Homo sapiens: one gene and its partner. The protein of the gene in region 1 binds, or shares a complex with, the protein of each later gene. Each region holds a gene or a part of one and is shown on either strand. Other genes may lie near its edges. A codon is read from its position in the direction of its gene.

Region 1 (9,951 bases):
TGTAGAGATGGGTTTTCAGCATGTTGCTCAGGCTGGCCTCAAATTCCTAGGTTCAAGTGATCCTCTTGCCTGGGCCACCCAAAGTGCTAGGATTACAGGTACCAGTCACTGGGCCCACCCCTGAAGGTCTTTGATGGGGGTGAAGACTCAGGCACTTCAAGAAGCAGACCTCAGGCCAGGCGCAGTGGCTCATGCCTATAATCCCAGCATTTAGGGAGGCCAAGGTGGGCAGATCACCTGAGGTCAGGAGTTCAAGACCAGCCTGGACAACATGGAGAAATCTCATCTCTATTAAAAATATAAAAATCAGCTGGGCATGGTGGCAGGTGCCTGTAATCCCAGCTACTCAAAAGCTGACACAGGAAATTTCCTGAACCCAGGAAGCAGAGGTTGCAGTGAGCTGAGATCACACCAATGCACTACAGCCTTGGCAACAGAGCGAGACTCTGCCTCAAAAAAAAAAAAGCAGACCTGTAGGGAACAGGAGGATCAACCAACTGAGATACCACAAGAAGATAGGTTCTGGCTGGGCACAGTGGCTCACACCTATAATTCTAGCACTTTGGTAGGCCAAAGCAGGAGGATTGCTTGAGCCCAGGAATTCAAGACCAGCCGGGACAACAGAGTGAGATCCCTGTCTCTACAAAAAATTTAAAAATTGGCTGGGCATGGTGACACATGCCTCTGCCTGTGGTCCCGGCTACTCGAGAGGCTAAGGCAGGAGGATCACTTAGGCCCAGGAAGTTGAGACCGAAGTGAGCTGTGATTGTGACTCTGCACTCCAGCCTGGGTGACCGAGTGAGACCCTGTCTCAAAAATAAATAAATAAATAAAGGAAAAGAAAAAAGGTTATCTGCTCAGACATGTAAGCTGGCCTTGTGGCCAAGGCAGAGAGACTCTCATGGCCTATCTCAGAACAGCCACCTAATGACCATCAAAACCTTGACACACTGGCGGGGTGCAATGGCTCATGCCTGTAATCCCAGCATTTTGGGAAGCTGAAGGAAGAAGACTGTTTGAGGCTAGAGTTCAAGACTTGGCCAACATAGGGAGACTCCATCTCTACAAAAAGTTTTTAAAATTAGTTGAGCATGGTAGTGTGTGCCTGTGGTCCCACCTACTCAGGAGGCTGGGGCAGGAGGATCCCTTGAGCCCAGGAGGTGGAGGCTGCAGTGAGCCATGATGGCACACTCTAGCCTGGGTGACAGAGTGAGTGAGACTTTGTCTAAAAAAAAAAAAAAAAACCCAAAAACAAACAAAAAACAACCTTGACACATTCCTCTACACCCCAGTGTCCCCCTTTTCTGTTGTTTAATTTTTTAAAAACTGTCTCTGGCGGTCAGGCGCAGTGGCTCACACCTGTAATCCGAGCACCTTGGGAGGCTGAGGCAGGCAGATCACCTGAGGTCAGGAGTTCGAGACCAGCCTGGCCCATTAATGTAGTGAAGCCCTGTCTCTACTAAAAATACAAAAAATTAGCCAGGCGTGGTGGCACACACCTGTAATCCCAGCTACATGGGAGGCTGAGGCAGGAAAATCGCTTGTGCCAGCAGGTGGAGGTTGCAGTGAGCTGAGGTGGTGCCACTGCACTTCATCCTGGGTGACAGAGCAAGACTCTCAAAAAAAAAAAAAAAAATTTTATCTGGCCTGCTTAATGCTTAAGTGTTTGAACATCCCCACCATTTTTTTTTTTTGTGGCACTCAAGAGGCCATCCCTTCCACCTCCATACTAGTCAGTCTGATTTTTTCCACATCCCTTCTACTCAAGCATCAAAGACTGAGAAAAATGAGTCATAAAAGAACAGATGTTCTAGGGTTTCAACGTTTATTCCTGGCATGACTAAGAGGACGGAAGAGCCTGCTGACCTCATCCTACAGCTATACAGGGACTCCCAGGCCTTGCCCCAAGACGTACCCTTATGTTTTCTGACTGTAGTAGGTGGGGGCAGACTCTACCTTCAGAAGGAACTACAAGATGTTTCTTTGTTTTGAGATGGAGTCTGGCACTGTCGCCTAGGCTCACTGCAACCTCTGCCTCCTGGGTTCAAGTGATTCTCCTGCCTCGGCTACCCAAGTATCTGGCATTACAGGTGCCCTCCACCATGCCCAGCTAATCTTTGTATTTTAGTAGAGACGGGATTTCACCACGTTGGCCAGGCTGGTCTCGAACTCCTGTCCTCAGGTGATCCACCCACCTCAGCCTCCCAAAGTGCTGGGATTACAGGTGTGAGCCATTGCACCCGGCCAGGAAATACAAGATGTTAATGAAAGAATTTGAGAACATGAGCGAGGTGGCTCATGGCCATAATCCCAGCGCTTTGGGAGGCCTGGGTGGGCGGATCACCTGAGGTCAGGAGTTTGAGACCAGCCTGGCCAACATGGTGAAACCCCGTCTCTACTAAAAATACAAAAACTAGCCAGGCCTGGTGGCGAGCACCTGTAATCTCAGCTACTCAGGAGGCTGAGGCTAGAGAAGCAGGCTGAGGCTCTTGAAGCCAGGAAGCAGAGGTTGCAGTGAGCCGAGATCACGCCATTGCACTCGAGCCTGGGCGACAAGCACGCAGGAAGTCAGGGGACCTAGCCAGGATACACTGCCTTTTCCATCAACTGGCTGTGTGTCCTTAACCTCCCTGGTGGAGCCACTTAACCTCTTTGGTACTTCCGTAATGTGAATGAGGAGGATAGATGGATATAAGGCCCCTTACTGCTCTAAGAATCTATGGGATTGGATTTCAGTTCAGCATCCATTTCCAGGTTTGCGCTCATCTTTCCAATGAGAGACACCTGGGCAGGTAGAGCAAAGAGCAATTCTCTGGCTGCTGGTATAGTAGACCTAAGGCTTGAGCAAGTGCCTGATACAAGAAGAAAAGGAATTGCCCCTTTTTCTTGGCAGCCAGGACAGAGACCCAGTGCCCAACCTGCTTATACCTCCAACCCTGCCCATCCATCGCCTGACAGACAGGAGTGCAGGACAAGTTCTCGCCCCTCATTGCCCTCCCTACCTTTCCAGTTCTGGCAGTTCCTTGCAGGCTCTCCCCACCTTGGGTTTCCTCCCAGCCCCGTCTCTGAGGGCAGCACCTTCCCACATCCTGACGCAGGTCAGTGTAGCTGTGAAGGAGGCAGAGGAGTGAGTGTCTGAGACACGAGTGATCCAGGTCCTTCAAGCTGCAGAGTACATCCCTCACACACATACTCAAGATTCCTCCAGATGGTTGTCCTAGAGAAGGTGGCGATGTGATTTCCCAGGTTCTCCGTGAAGTAGTCAAGTATTCAAACTCCTCTATGCCCTTCTTCCTCTTACCCCTTCATTCCCTCTATTTCTCCTGCCTCTCTCATTGCCATTCTTTCTTACATTATTTTGCTTCCTTCCTCAGTTCTCCAGGATCTTCACCTATTTGTTTATTTTGAGATAGCGTATGACTTGTCACCCAGACTGCAGTGCAGTGGAATGTCATGGCTCTCTGCAGCCTCGACCTCCTGGGCTCAAATAATCCTCTCACCTCAGCCTCCTAAGTAGCTGGGACCACAGGTGCATGCCACCACACTCAGCTTTTTTTTTTTTTTTTTTTTTTTTTTTTGAGACAAGTTATCACTCTGTTGCCCAGGCTAGAGTGTGGAGTGTGGTGGTGGAGTGTGGTGGTGATCTCAGCTCACTGCAGCCTCGACCTCCCAGGCTCAAGTGATCCTTCCACTTCAGCCTCTCCCCGAGTAGCTGAGACTACAAGTGCACACCACCACACCTGCCTAATATTCTGTATTTTTAGTAGAGACAGGGTTTTGCCATGTTGCCCAGGCTGGTCTCGAACTCCTGGGATCAAGCAATCTGCCCGCCTTGCCCTCCCAAAGTGCTGGGGTTACAAGCCTGAGCCACTATGCTTTGCCGAAGATTCCCGTCTTCCCACTGAACCTTCTTCTTTCCTTCTCCTGGGCCATTCCTGAGCCCTGGCTGAGGGGAGAGAAGGGAAGGAAAGCCCCTCCTGCGGCCATCTCAGCATCCAAGGCAATCCTTCTGGGGCTGCTCTGTCTCCAGGGCCCCAGCCATCCCCAGACACTGAGTGCCTGAGGGGGGACCCTCACTCCTGTGGCACTATGGTAAGATAGGAAACAGTGGCTTCTCCTCAAAGCAGCCTCGCCGGTCGGTCAGCTGACTACCAACATGGGAAGTGGCCGAAGATCCACATGGAATGACACTGATAAGCACTTTGCAGTGTCTGAAACTCTTAAACATCAGTGCTGTCTTCCTAGTTTTACAGACACAACTCTGTGGGTTGGATGAGGTTTTTCTAAATGTACAAATGCAGAAATATACGGAGGGAGTAAAGGGACTGCCTACAAATCACATCTAGAGTGTGGTGTACCTGATTTCAAGTCTTTTATTTTATTCTCGCAGCAACGGGAGAATCCGCAGTCGAGGGAGGTGAAATGACTTGCTGAACGCCACACGGCGGACTCCAAGCCCCGAGCTCCTATAACAGAGGAGGAGGAAGGCGGGCTCAGCTCCTGCCACCCAGCAGCGGGGGAGATGCAGCCCGGGACTAGGCTGGGCCATGGGGACAGATCCAGGCCCCGCCCCCTGACCTTGTTCTCTGCCCGCCGGGAAGTGGGGAACTTGCGGGGAGCAGCCTCAGCTAGTCCCTGGGGCAGAGTCTCCACTTGGGTGCACGCCCTGGGGTGGGGCTTCTTCGGGAAGCCGGGGGCCTTCAACTCTGCTCAGGAGCTCGGGCCGGAGAAAGGCCCCGAGACTTGAAGCCCTTGCCCGGGAGGGATGAACACGCAAAGGAACCCGAGGAACGGGGTAGGGGACCAAGAGTAGGACCAGCTTCTCCTGCGCGGGGACAGGGCCTGTGGAGCGGCCTGGAGGAATCTCTCCCAGCCGCGAAGCCCGGGAAGGCTGCGAGGCCCCAGCGCGGAGCGGCCCCTCCCACCTCCCCGAGGGCAGGCGGAGCGAAGCCTCGGGGCCCGGGCCCAGGTTTTGTGCCTACGGAGGCTGGACTTCCCCGCCACCCCGAGGAGTCACCGAGAGCCTTCTCTCCCTCGCAGGGGCCCTGGGAGGCCCGCGCTTTCTCTGAAAGTGGAAGGAGTGGGCGGGGGGCGCGGCCGAGGCGGGGCGCGGGCGTGCAGCGGCGCAGGCTCCGCCCCGGGGCCGTCTCCAGCCGGGGGCGCCGAGCCGCTCCAGTCCCCGGCGCGCCGCGGGCTGGTGGGCTCAGCGGCGGCGCCGGCACTGGGAAATGACCCTGCCCGGGGGCCCAACGGGCATGGCGCGGCCGGGGGGCGCGAGGCCCTGCAGCCCGGGGCTGGAGCGGGCCCCGCGCCGGAGTGTCGGGGAGCTGCGCCTGCTCTTCGAGGCGCGCTGTGCGGCGGTCGCTGCGGCCGCCGCCGCGGGGGAGCCCCGGGCCCGCGGGGCCAAGCGGCGTGGGGGACAGGTCCCCAACGGGCTTCCGCGGGCTCCCCCGGCCCCGGTGATCCCTCAGCTGACCGTGACAGCCGAGGAGCCCGACGTGCCCCCGACCAGCCCTGGGCCGCCGGAGCGGGAGAGGGACTGCCTCCCGGCAGCGGGCTCTTCGCACCTGCAGCAGCCGCGCCGCCTTTCCACCTCGTCGGTCTCCTCCACTGGCTCCTCGTCGCTGCTCGAGGACTCGGAGGACGACCTGCTGAGCGACAGTGAGAGCCGGAGCCGCGGCAACGTGCAGCTGGAAGCGGGCGAGGACGTGGGTCAGGTACGGGCCGCGGGGGCGGGGCCAGCGCCGGGCGCGGGGGCTGCACGGGGGACCTGGCTGGGTGCTCCCGGAGGACCCGCTCCTGTCCATGCTCCCTCCAGCGGAAGGTCCTGTTCTCGCGGTTTAGGAGGAATCTGGGGGTCAGAGGGAGGCGCCTGGCCGACCTCTCGCCTGGGCAACTTTCACCTCGGCTCCGCCGGCGGGTCGTGGCGCTGGCCCTGGGGCGTCTAAGAAGCGGGGCGAGGAGCAGGCGACCCGCCGCGGGGACTGGGCGAAGCGGGGGTAGCGGACCTTGTTGGCTGTGGGTTAGGACAGGAGGGATCGGAGGGGCTGAGCCTTGCCGGGTGAACCCTCGGAAGGAGAGAGGCGAAGGAGAGTTTCCCTTACCCCCCGCCCCCTCTCCGGTGCCGCGGCCGCACCCCCGCCGTTGCCACGGTTTCCCTCTCCTGAGTGGGAGTGGAGCGGCGCTCCAGGCTCTGCTCGGGAGCCGCTGCCGTCTGCTCCCAGCGCCCGCACGAGGCGTGGACGCAGGGGAGGGAGGGGCGTGGGCCTGGGAGCTCTGGCTGGGAGCGGAACGCAGCCCACCCAGTGCGCGCCCTGCCTCCCATCTTCCCGGCTCGCCGCTCCTGAGCGCGGCAGAGAGGGGCGGTAAACTGAGGCTGCAAGGGGGCAGGATCACTCTGCTAGTCTCTGCCTCTGATAGCCTGGGTGTTCTGGGACCAGGTCTGACCCTCGGAAAACACAGCCCTGGGCACTGTTAAGTCATTCCTGACGCCCGCCACTTAGGGATGTGCGGCTCCCGGGACACCCTCCTTGTTCCCCTCGTTTTAACCAAGGCCAAATACCTTGAATAACTGTCCGTGGTCAGCGCGAAGGACTTTCTTTAGATCCACGTTTCGCAAGTGTCCCTGAGGCCGAGGAAGAGGCGAGGGGCGCCCCCGGCCTCGGGCGTCTGGGGCCTGCCCATAAGTCCGGGTCGGCGCGGCGGGGCGGGGAGAGCTGTGGCCGCGCGCCTGCTCCGCCGCACAATCGGCTGGGACAAGGCAGGGAAGCTGTGGCGACCTGCAGGGGTTCACAAGCCCGGAGGCCGATGGGGTTTGTCAGTGACACCAGAGGGGAAAAGCCTCACAGAGCAGGAACACCCCCCGCCGCCAGGTGCTGGGTGCGCCGGCTCGGTCACTAGCCTGCCGCTTCCCCTTCTTCCCCGGTGGTCAGAGCAGCCCCGGACCCAGGATCGTTTCTGGGGTAACCCTTGCCTAGGTCGGGGGGCGGATGCCGGGGCTTCCCAGGATGTGGAGTGTGGGGCAGTGAGAGGCCCCCCGCCCCGCCTCTTCGGAAAAGCCTGAGCAGCAGCTCCCGGGGCGCGGAAGCTCTGACACCTGAGAGCCGGTGCAGGCGAAAGGGCGCGAAGCGCGGGCGCGTCCCGCTTCCCTCTTCCGCCCGCAGGGACTCGGCGAAGTGCCTGGGAGAGGGAGTGCGCTAGGAGGAGGTCCTGCGGCCCAAGCCTGGGTGTAGAGACCGCCCCGGCTAAGGTCAAGCCTCGGGGACCTGGGCGACCCCGCCGCCCTCCGAGCCGTCGGGAGCCGGTGCAAATCGCCGCTGAGGGCCCTTCCAGCTCCAAGGCTGCGGCTTCCAGGCCTTCCCCACCCCCAGGCCCGCCGGGGCCTCCCCGAAGTCAAACAGCCACAGCGGCGGCAGATAAGCCAGGGGCTGTTGACAGAGGCTGCCTGAGTCCGTGTGGAAGGGCCCAGGGCGGACTTTGCCTCGCCGCAGGTCCCAGAGCCGCACAGCGCGCCGGCCCAGGCCAATTTAGGGCTTCCCCAGGCAGGAAGCAAGGCTGGTCCGGCTGACCGTGAAGGATGCACGTGGGCCGGACTCTAGGACTCCCGGCTTACCAGCCCCTTACGCGCGGCCCAGGCAGGCCGGAGCCCAGGAAGTTTCTGCCTGCCTGCCTGCCTACCTCTCTGCCTGGGGCATACGTAGTCCCCTTCACCTCCTAGGAGCCCTCTCCAGCCTGCCCAGAGCAGGGAAATTGAAACTGGGCAGCCTCACTCCGGCAGAGGAAAAAGTCACAGGCAGGCTTTTCCTAACCAGCCAGGGGAGAAGTTGGAGGCCCACCCGCAAGGTCAGCTGCATGACTCTATGGCCTTGCCTGCCTCCTCAAACAATTGTGGGGTATTGCTGGAGGAAAAGAGAGGGTGTTTGGCTCCTGTTCATCTGGTTTTCTTCTTTCTGTGCTCCAGGATAGGTAAGGAGACCTGGATGCCATCCCCTCCTGGACTCAGAATTCCCACACATCGCTTTCCACTAATTATAGAGCAGAATTTAGGTTAACAGACTTCCTTTTTAAACAGCTAATGCCCATGGGAAGGTGAAGTCGTGGGTCACTTATACCTTAGTGCAAATCGTTTTATAAATTTAAACTGATTGCTCTTCCCACCACCACGACCACAGGGAGTGCTAGTTTGATAGGGCAATTGGAACATGGGGAGGGTATTGGGCTGGTAGAGAGCTTCAACCAGAGCCTGGATGACTGGAGGCAGGGAGCAAGGGTGAGTGCCAAAGACAGAGCACTCACCCACCTGCTGGTCTGCTCCAGCAGAAGATACACTGTGTATCTGGCATGAGCAGGTGTCTTCAAGGCTTCCGAATGGAGCTTAGACAAAGGAGGGTCTGAGGCTAGTATCCAGCCAAGCCCTGCCCAGAGAGAGGTACTCCCTGTTCAGCCCTAGGAGTGAGGAATTATCAGAGGGCCCTCCTGTGACTTCATTAAAGTCTCTCACACAGTCAGCAATCCTAGCCTTTGCCTCAAGATACCCAGGTAGCCTCTGGCTGTGTGTTAGTCTCCCAGAGAGGGCACCTTCATGGAGGGAGGCCCGAGCCAGAGGATGTTCAAGCTTCTCCCGGGTTCAAGCGATTCTCCTGCCTCAGCCTCCCGAGTAGCTGGGATTACAGGCACCTACCACCACACCGGCTAAGTTTTGTATTTTTAATAGAGATGGGGTTTCACCATGTTGGCCAGGCTGCTCTCGAACTCCTGACCTCAAGTGATGCATCTGCCTTGGCCTCCCAAAGTGCTGAGATTACAGGTGTCAGCCACCGCGCCTGGGCTTACATTCATTTTTAAAAGCGTGATGTTCTCTGGGGGAGGTATCTCCCTAAGGTGGAAGGTGGCAGTGATTTGAGTTCCATGACACTTGCACAACTCCTGCCATGCTTGGCCATACCCATTACTGGCAGGGGGGCTAAATCCTGTCATAGCAACCTCAGGTGGTAGGACGGAGGACTCAGATGAGATAATAGGTATGAAAATCTTTTGTAGGCTGGGAGCAGTGGCTCACACTTGTAATCCCAGCACTTTGGGAGTCCAAGGCGGGAGGATCACTTGAACCCCGGAGTTCGAGGCCAGCCTGGGCAACATAGCAAAATCCTGTCTCTACTAAAAATACAAAAAAAATGTCACGGTGGCTCACACTTGCAATCCCAGCACTTTAGGAGGCCATGGCAGGTAGATCACTTGAGGCCAGGAGTTTGAGACCAGCCTGGCCAACATGATGAAACCCCGTCTCTACTAAAAATATAAAAATTAGCCAGGCGTTGGTGGTGCACGCCTATAATCCCAGCTACTCAGGAGACTGAGGCAGGAGAATCGCTCAAACCTGGAAGACAGAGGTAGCAGTGAGCCGAGATCGCACCACTCAAATAAATATGTACATACATACATACAAAAATACAAAAAATCAACCAGGCATGGTGACTCACATCTGTAGTCCCAGCTACTCTGGAGGCTGAGGTGGGAGGATCACCTGAACCCTGGAAGTCCAGGATGCAGTTAGCTGTGATCGCACCACTGGACTCCAGCCTGGACAATGGGAGTGAGACCTTGTCTCAAAAAAAAAAAAAAAAAAAAAGTATTTTGTAACCTGCTAGCTAGGACTGGCCTTAGTTGCTGCTGCTCTTGATTCTTATGAGATGCAGAAAACCAAGGTCAAGAGAGTAGGTGATGACACCATTTTACCCCTGCTTGGGAGCAGGTCCATCAATCAAATGGTAGTAGCCCAGGTTTTTAGACACACATCAAATCCTCTTCTGCCAGGCCCACCTGCCAGCCCTCCTCACTGTTTCTGCACAGTTCTAAAAGGATGGTTCAGTTCCCTCACCCTGCCTAACCCAAGGCAAGTTTCCTCTTCACTAAGTCCATTCTGGTCCCACTATCCCCTAAATTCTTCTAGCA
Region 2 (9,440 bases), on another chromosome or scaffold:
TAAAAATACAAAAAATTAACTGGGCGTGGTGGCGGGCGCCTGTAATCCCAGCTACTCGGGAGGCTGACGCAGAATTGCTTGAACCTGGGAGGCAGAAGCTGCAGTGAGCCGAGATTGCGCCACTGCACTCCAGCCCAGACAACAGTGCTAGAGTCCATCTAAAAAAAACAAAAACAAAAACAAAAACACAACTTGAAGGTGATATCACAGTCCTGGGTTCCAATAGGATTATGTTGTAGGAAGCATTGGAACAGATTTGAACCCAGCTCATTATGACCACAGTTAAATTATACAATCATTCTACTCGTTTCCTGTAAAATCAAAATGCCAAGACTTCGTGACTTTTGTAAAGATTTCAACAATAGAAATGACCAATTATGACATAGAAGAGCCCAAAAAATGTTTCTCCTACCTTTGTTGTCCTTGTTAATTATACCTTGATATCAATTTATATAAACCTCATTGTTGACGCTGGAAAAACACAAATTGACTGCCTAAGTCCCTCATTTTTCAGGGTCATAACTGGTTTAATAGCACAATTAATGGAACACTTAATGCAAATGCCAAGGACAATGTTAAGGGCCTTACTTTCATTATTTCACTTAACTTTTAAAAAAGCCCCACTCATAATCCCAACACTTTGGGAGGATGAGGTGAGGGGATCACTTGAGCCCAGGAGTTCAAGACCAACCTGGGCAACATGAGTCCCTGTCTTTACAAAAAACAAACCTTGTTTGGATTTCCTTTCGACAAAATTTACTACATCCAATTAAGGGGAGTAGAGTGCACATCTAAAATCTTCCTATTTAACTGATTACCCGAGTATGTGATACCATTAGAACTATCAATGCCTGTAACTTCCCTTGCTCTAAAACATACTAATAGTAGTATTAAGATAGTCAATGGGGCAGTAACCTGCCAAATAATGAATTACCCCTGGGAAATTAAAGACCTTGTAGCTATAATAACCAGGTAACAATTACACTCAATGTTTTAATCTTGGCTCTGGTTTGCTATGGAATCTTTCATTAAGCATTTAAAAGGTACTTTAAAAAAATAAAAACCCTGATAACCACCTTTGGAGTAGCTCAAATTATAGAGAAAGCAATGATAGAAGCCAGCAAAAACTAAAACAAGGTGTAGTCATTGCCAATTTACTCCTAAAGACATCTTTTTTTGCAAAATGTTGCAGATGGGCAAGCTGAAAATTCTCATCTTATAGAATTAAAAAGCACAATGAATAAAATATTAGTTAATAGAAGTAAAACTATAAGGATGCTCACCCCAACTAGATTTGGTTTTTTTTTGAACATGCAAACATTTAAAACATCACTGCACAGCTTAAGTCAACATGGACAAATGCCAAAGTTGAAAACTATAAAGGTAGGAAACAGTAAATACCTACTTTATGCCAATTCCCATACTAGGTACACTTAAGTTTTTGAGTCTTTCATTGGGGCCTTTTGAAGTTGTCAAATACAATCTGGATAAAGAAACAAAACAAAAAACTTGCCCCTCTTTTCCCATGACTGCCACCATCTTGTTCTGTGGGCAGAGGCAACTCACAGGTATCCTGGATCTAACACAGTAGCACAGTACGACACACATGGTGGTGGAGGAATGTTGTGGGCACGCATGATGGTGGCCCCCAAAAGGTGACTACACTAAGCCAGCCCCCATAGATCCCCATCTTTTCGGCCTTCCTCTTCAATCTCTCCTTAGTTACACCCCTTATTTTGTTCCTCTTATTTTCTGTGCTTCTCTCCCTCTTTTCTCACTTTTCCAATCCTTTTCTCCTTCCTTTCCCACCTTCACTATTTCTGCCACCCATCTCCATATGCTTCCCCACACGAGAAAAAATTATCTAGACTATACCAAGCAGAAACCAATGCCATATTTTATTTTCAAAATTATTAGACTTCAACAGTTAAATGACTCAGATGCAGAGCAACCATTGGGTAAATTGTAATTTTTTTATTGGAAAACAAATATACAACTTGGAATGGATTTTGAGGCAAATTGTGCCATAAGCAGATTTTAAGTGGCTAAACAAAGTTTAAAAAGCAAGTAACAATAAAAGAAAATGTTTCTGGTACAGGACCAGCAGTACAAAAAAATAGTGTACGAGTACCTGGATAATACACCCGTTTTGCAATAGTGCAACTTTTAAGTACATATTGTTGACTGTCCATAGTCCACGCAGAGTTACAACTCCACACTTCAACAACAACATGCTGACAGTTCCTAAAGAAAACTACTTTAAAAAAGGCATAACCCAGATGTTCCCTCATTTGACCAACTCCATCTAAGTTTAGATGTGCAGAAGGGCTTAGATATATCCAGAGTAAGCCACATGCAACATGTTACTTGATCAATTTTCTAAAATAAGGTTTTAGGACAATGACAGTAAGATAAGGGAAGAAAACATGGAGGAATGAAGTCCTAATTACTATACATGCATATTTTTTTGACAGTAGGGAGAAACCTTTTACAGATAAGTTACAAACAAAGAAAAGGCAAATAAACAATTTTGTACAAGAAATTTAACACATTCTGTACAAGGTCTTCACTTTGCTGTCATCATTTGTACAAACTCTGAAAAAGAAGAAGTACACAAAAAATGAGTCAATAGCAAAAGACCAAAAAAAAAAAAAAAAAAAAAAAATCACATTTACTCAATTACTGAGTACTCTTTCCATTCCTCTCTTTCCTCAGAATTACCATTAAGTACAGAGGGAAGCTAGTTTATTGCCCAGGCTGGAACTTCATTAACCATAACTATTCAGGTTTATTAGTAAGAGCCAAATTAACGCTTTAGATAGGCCAATATAAAAAAGAGCATTCTTGGCTCTTAGTTTAGACTTGAATTTTAAGTCTGCTGGATTACAAGACAATATTGTAAATTCAATGCTATGGGCTAGGTTTAATTTTTATAACATTACATTTTATGCTCTTTTCTAAGTTAAGTAGTTACATCATGAAAAAAATACAGAGTTTTACTCAAAATCCTTCAGTTTCATATGCCTTGCTTCCTGATATGGCCATCTTAAAAGTTAGTAGATACGATACTTTTGAAGCACATGTAAACTTCAGTTTCAGACTAAAGCCAATTAAAGAAAAAAGACAATACAGTGCGGGGAAAGAAAGTCACATTAATTTCATTTTAGGAAACTTGGAATAAGTTTGCTTTCCACATTGTTCCACAATCACACAAACACTGAACAGTGCTTCTCAAACTTTATACATGAATCACCCAAGAATCCTATTAAAATGCTGATTCCAGGTGTAGGGATAGAACCTGATAGTAAATATTTCTAAATTAAGTTCTCAAGTCAGAGCAATGTTACCTAGTCTGCAGACAACACTCTGAATTTTAAGAAGGTTAAATGTAAGTAACTGTTTTAGCAACCTAATTTCAGGGGAAGGGTCACTAATTTCGATCAGTTCCCTAACAAAGAGCCTCTTATCTTAAAAATCAAAGTGAAGAATGAGGCGTGAGACTGAAACATTTACCTTCATAGTTTACTTGACCATCACCATCAATATCTGCTTCCCTGATCATTTCATCAACTTCTTCATCTGTTAACTTCTCTCCAAGGTTTGTCATCACATGGCGAAGTTCTGCAGCACTAATATAGCCATTGCCATCCTAGCAAAAAATTTAGTATAGTTTCTGAGTCAAATTACAGACTTGAGAGTTGGAATGGAAATTTATTAAGTTTACTACTAAATTTCACATTGGGGGAAAAACATACTTTAGAAATGCATACAAATCTACACAGTTGACCTACAAATGTCATTAAGAGCCAAGCAAAATGTCCTACATTGAAATCATTATTTCCTAGTCCCAAAGTCAAGTGACACCTCCTTTGACAAGATGAACGCAATACATATATTAGAAAGTCTATACTGAATTCTTAAAAAGCTTTTGCTTGGTAATTAAAATATGTTGGTAAATCATCAAAAAAAAAAAAAAAAAAAAAAAAAAAAACAACCAAAAAAACACAAGTCTTCATAATGAGTCCTGGTATCTTCATTTCATCCTCAAAATTTAACATATCCAGTCCTTGACGTACCTTATCAAACACACGGAATGCTTCTCTAATTTCTTCTTCACTGTCTGTGTCTTTCATTTTTCTTGCCATCATTGTCAGAAATTCAGGGAAGTCAATTGTGCCATTACCTGAAATGGTTTAGTGGAAACATCAAAGCTTTAGTGGAAACATATAAGCAAACAGCAAAGGTTTAGTGGAAACATCTAAGTATCACTTCTTCAACCCCTCCCAGCCCCACAAAATTGAAGACTTACCATCAGCATCTACTTCATTAATCATGTCCTGTAACTCTGCTTCTGTGGGATTCTGCCCAAGAGATCTCATTACAGTTCCCAATTCCTTTGTTGTTATAGTTCCATCACCATCTTTGTCAAATAGTGAAAAAGCTTCTTTGAATTCTGTTTGAAAGAAAGACCACAATCCAAATACACAGATTAATAATAAAATGTAACCTAAATGAAACGTATTAACTCTTAAAGCCTACTCAGTGGTGGGATCGTGCCAGTGAACAGCCACTGCACTTCAGCCTGGCCAAACTGTAAGACCCCACGTCTCAGAAAAACCCAAAAACTTTTAACGGAAAAATACCAATGGAGGTAGCAATTGAAATGTGACTTTGACTCCTAAAGATTAACCAATCTTTATGATACCTTATGATAATATTTCAAATATATCTTTGACCAATCATACCACTGTACTTTCATGCTGACCTAAGTAAAATTATCCTAGGTTTACAGAGGAAAAGAACCAAATCCCCAAATGACTGGCTCCTCTGTCACTGAAGCTGCTCTGTGGAACATAATTCAAAATTACAGACCTAACCTACACTCACAAAACAAAAATAAGACTACTGGTACCCAAATACGTATTTCTACAGAGTAATTAAACTGTTTCTGTATACTGTGTTTAGAGTTAGCCACTATGTCTAAATCAATCACCTACTAAATTAAAACAGGCTACTTTCCCTTTCTAGTAAGGCAGGAGAAGGGACTATATAAAGAGTCTATAACAATGGGCTGATCAAGATATAAATGTCCAGTTTTAGCTAAATGCATGTCACTGAGAACAAAGATCATTTTGAGCTTTCTTTGGAATATTAAAACCCCAACCTTATATAGTGAAACTGATTATTCCTCAACATCTTGTTGTGATAGTATGTTCCTTCCTGCTGTTGTTTTTTTTTTTGAGATGGACTTTCGCTCTTGTTGTCCAGGCTGGAGTGCAATGGTGCAATCTCAGCCCACCGCAACCTCCTCCTCCCAGGATCAAGCAATTCTCCTGCCTCAGCCTCCCGAGTAGCTGGAATTACAGGCATGCACCACCACGCCCAGCTAATTTTCTATTTTTAGTAGAGATGGGGTTTCTCCACGTTGGTCAGGCTGGCCTCGAACTCCCAACCTCAGGTGATCCGCCTGTCTCTGCCTCCCAAAGTGCTGGGATTACAGGGCATGAGCCACTGTGCCCGGCTATATGTTCCTTCTAATACATCACTAGATTACATGGAAACCTCCTGCTGGTGCAACACTCCAGACTACCTGGCTTCATTCACCATTTACAGATAAACTAAAACAAGCCAGGTGCAGTGGCTCACACCTGTAATCCTAGCACTTTGGGAGGCCAAGGTGGGCAGACTGCCTGAGCTCAGGGTGAGTTCCAGACCAGCCTGAACAACAGGGTGAAACCCCGTCTCAGGCCGGGCGCGGTGGCTCAAGCCTGTAATCCCAGCACTTTGGGAGGCTGAGGCGGGTGGATCATGAGGTCAGGAGATCGAGACCATCCTGGCTAACACGGTGAAACCCCATCTCTACTAAAAATACAAAAAAATTAGCCGGGCGTGGTGGCGGGCGCCTATAGTCCCAGCTACTCGGGAGGCTGAGGCAGGAGAATGGCGTGAACCTGGGAGGCAGAGCTTGCAGTGAGCTGATATTGCGCCACTGCACTCCAGCCTGGGCGACAGAGCGAGACTCCGTCTCAAAAAAAAAAAAAAAGAAGAAAAAGAAAAGAAACCCCGTCTCTACTAAAACACACACACACACAAGCTGGGTGTGGCGGCGTGTGCCTGTAGTCCCCCGTCTCTACTAAAACACACACACACACACACACACACACACACACACACACACGCTGGGTGTGGCAGCGTGGGCCTGTAGTCCCCCGTCTCTATTAAAACACAAACACACACACAAGCTGGGTGTGGCGGCGTGCGCCTGTAGTCCCAGCTACTGGGGAGGCTGCAGCAGCAGAACTGCTTGAACCCGAGAGGCGGAGGTTGCAGTGAGCCGAGATCACACCACTGCACTCCAGCTTGGGCAACAGAGTGAGACTTGTCTCAAAAAAAAAAAAAGAAAGAAAGAAACTAAAACAGACTAACTTTGATACTGCAAAGTTATACCAATCAGTAAATAATAAAGCTAGTATTTTCCAAGTAAGTCATTTCCCAGAAAATATTAGACCCTATCAGCAAATGAATACAAAAAGTTTCCAAGTTCATTGGGCCATTAAGCTTTCCCAACATAGCCATACATTTGAAAATTTATGTGACACATGTGTAAGAAATGGTGTACCTTCTTTACGGTCCAAGGCCAATTTATTCCCTGCCTGCTTATCCCTAACTCCAATTCGCGTACACCTTCCAGTTTCATTCCGTATTACCTCTTCCCTGGACTCAACTATTCTTCCACTAATTTGCCCATTACCACATAAATATCTTCACATCGCTTAGCCTAAAACTAAATTGAAACCTTAGTTATATTTTAAATGCTTGCCCTTATCCCTCCCCAAATTTTGGAAGGCACTACTACTCATACCAATTTCCTCTCTCCAAACAATCCACTATTTTAAAATGACATCCAGCTCCAACTCATCACCTGAAAATGCTGAGTTTACCAATGACTACTAGTCAGTCACCCAATCCATCAAGCATGCTTCAATGTGAAGCCATATGGCATAGAAACTAAAATGAGACTTTGTAACTTGACTACTGGGTTAGAATTTCCTAGCTCTGTTTCTTCTTCTGGCAATGCAATATGGACAAGCTACTAAACCTTTTCTGCCTCAGCTTCCTCATTTCTGTGAAATGACATAAATGTGCCCAGTAAGTGGGGTGACACAGTATACCATGCCCACAAGGGGTATTCACCTGGTCACCCCCCATAAAAAAATTAGTATGTGTCAAACACTTAGAACTATGTCCAACAAATACATACTTAATAAATGTCAAGATAAAGACTATCTCATTTTTTTGCAGCATCCAAAACTGCATGGAAAAACTCTCAAAATTTTTCTTGGCCTTCGTAACAGTACTTTGATTTTCCTCCTACCATATACTGCCAAAGGCTCTTACTCCTGTCTCTTATGTCTAGATGTGACCAATTTTATCCTTTTTTTCCACTCCTTGGCCACTTCATCTATACCCACTTACAACGAAGATATCTTTAGTCTACCCATCTCGCTCAATAAATGTCTTTATTTCTGGCTGTCTACAGGATATAGCTCCCCTGGCTGATGACAAGCAAAACATATGAAAATGAATTCTATACTCCCAGGCAACCCTAAAGGTACTAGCAAAAGCCCAAGAGCCACTTTTAACTCTTTCAGTCTGAAATCTGTCAACAGGTCTCGAATTCTATCATTTAAATACTGCCTGATTTTTCCTCCATCTCTACAACCAGTATTTTGGTTCAAGGCTCCATCGTCCTTTGCCAGGGCTATTACAATTGCCTCCTAACTGCATTCTTTCTTATTTAAATATTACTGGTTTATAGAGGAACTCATCTAATACCAATCAGAAGGTTCATACCACACTAATTGATTTTATGAAGATAGTATACAGTGCTAACCTAGATCAACCTAATGACAAAAATAGATCAGGGAGTCTCCACCTACAAATAGCACAATTGATAAAGACATTTCAATTTTACTGTTTTTAAACAGAATGTAGAAATATCTAGAAATACATATATTGGAGTTCAGACACATTGCACCTTTCACCTAATTTAGGTTACAAGAAAATTAAAGGACTTTGAGGTATTTGTTTATATTACATTCTCTGCTATGGGTATCTTTTAACACCACCATTAGGTGCATAAATTCCCAATGTTTAATTAGCAGTAATCACCTTTCTATTACATGATTTAACAAAAAGCTAAATACTGGAAGATGCATAGTGTAAGACTATGTATAACTTTCGAGAAATTTAAAAATCTAATAACACTTAAAATGTTTGCTAGAATAAGTAAAATGCAGAAAATAAAACCGTATCTATGCTAATACCATTTGTTATTCATTCAAGAAAGGAACAAATAACATTTCTTTTAAAGGTCAAGGTTTATTCCAAATTTTTACTTGTATTTTTATACTAAAGAGTAAAAAATACCTGTAAAAACTCAAAATAATAAACCCCAAAGTAAAATTTTAATTCACCTGCCTTTACAGTTTTCCTGTACTTCAGAACTAGCGTAATCTTTATGTATAGAAGCATATAATTCTAAACTGTAACTCCCAGGAATGACCTGAAATTAAATCCAAGAGTCAAAACCTAAACACACAATAAAGAGAACAGGTCCTGAATGCCACAGAACAGCTATCTTCTACATAATTGATAGATATAAGGAACCTACCAAAATCCATTTTAGCTGACCAAACTGAAACTTTCAGAAAAATCTATTACTCAAGTTTTATTTGTTCATTAGCAACCCCAAGGCCCTTCCCTAATTAGTTTATTACCTAAACATATAATTTTATTAAAATAACATGTTTTAAAAATTTTATTAAAATAGGTTATCACAAGACAATTACAAAACAAATCAAATGACTGTTTATTAACTTCTATTTCTTCACAAAATTCTGAACTTAATAATCCCTTAAAGATCATGTACTGGAACTCTTTTGGCGCTTCATGCAGTTGTTGCTATACATTGAGTAATATTAATATTTTTCTCAAACAAATTTGGACCTTGAAAATTTAATGAAAGTTTAGGTACAGACTTCTTAAGGAAAAAATACTGTACATTTTTCCTATCAGTCTTCCAAAAGTCAAACAGCAACAACTAATGACATCATGGCAGAGTTATCAACAAAATGAAATTGTTAGTGATGTCATACTAGACTGGAATGCTTTATACGACCAAGTAATATAAAAAATTTTAGGCCGGGAGCAGTGGCTCATGCCTGTAATCCCAACACTTTGGGAGGTCAAGGTAAGCGGATCACCTGACGTCAGCAGTTCAAGACCAGCCTGGCCAACATGGTGAAACCCCATCTCTCCTAAAAATACAAAAACTAGCCGGGTGTGGTGGTGCACGCCTGTAATCCCAGCTACTTGGGAGACTGAGCCAGGAGAATTGCTTGAAGTTGGACAGCAAAGGTTGCAGTGAGCCAAGATCA

The links.
Region 2: the proteins of ITPKA (region 1) and CALM2 are in contact, whole or in part, in a crystal structure (PDB 4UPU), measured with the Homo sapiens proteins. Residues at the interface, in NP_002211.1 of Homo sapiens: Asn165, His166, Trp167, Gln168, Lys169, Ile170, Arg171, Thr172, Met173, Val174, Asn175, Leu176, Pro177, Val178, Ile179, Ser180, Pro181, Phe182, Lys183; in NP_001734.1 of Homo sapiens: Glu12, Phe13 (codon at 4,451), Glu15 (codon at 4,445), Ala16 (codon at 4,442), Leu19 (codon at 4,433), Phe20 (codon at 4,430), Ile28 (codon at 4,406), Leu33 (codon at 4,391), Val36 (codon at 4,382), Met37 (codon at 4,379), Leu40 (codon at 4,370), Gln42 (codon at 4,364), Met52 (codon at 4,334), Glu55 (codon at 4,325), Val56 (codon at 4,322), Phe69 (codon at 4,157), Met72 (codon at 4,148), Met73 (codon at 4,145), Lys76 (codon at 4,136), Met77 (codon at 4,133), Lys78 (codon at 4,130), Thr80 (codon at 4,124), Asp81 (codon at 4,121), Glu85 (codon at 4,109), Glu88 (codon at 4,100), Ala89 (codon at 4,097), Arg91 (codon at 4,091), Val92 (codon at 4,088), Phe93 (codon at 4,085), Leu106 (codon at 3,619).

The regions. Positions count from the first base shown.
Region 1 is NC_000015.10:41,488,700-41,498,650, forward strand, and holds the start of ITPKA (inositol-trisphosphate 3-kinase A), read left to right. Parts: upstream 1-5,174; 5' UTR 5,175-5,228; coding exon 5,229-5,717; intron 5,718-9,465; exon of another isoform or gene 9,466-9,951. UniProt on the Homo sapiens protein: Catalyzes the phosphorylation of 1D-myo-inositol 1,4,5-trisphosphate (InsP3) into 1D-myo-inositol 1,3,4,5-tetrakisphosphate and participates to the regulation of calcium homeostasis.
Region 2 is NC_000002.12:47,158,210-47,167,649, forward strand, and holds the end of CALM2 (calmodulin-2), read right to left. Parts: intron 4,454-9,440; coding exon 4,310-4,453; intron 4,184-4,309; coding exon 4,077-4,183; intron 3,650-4,076; coding exon 3,514-3,649; intron 2,596-3,513; coding exon 2,567-2,595; 3' UTR 1,875-2,566; downstream 1-1,874. UniProt on the Homo sapiens protein: Calmodulin acts as part of a calcium signal transduction pathway by mediating the control of a large number of enzymes, ion channels, aquaporins and other proteins through calcium-binding. Calcium-binding is required for the activation of calmodulin.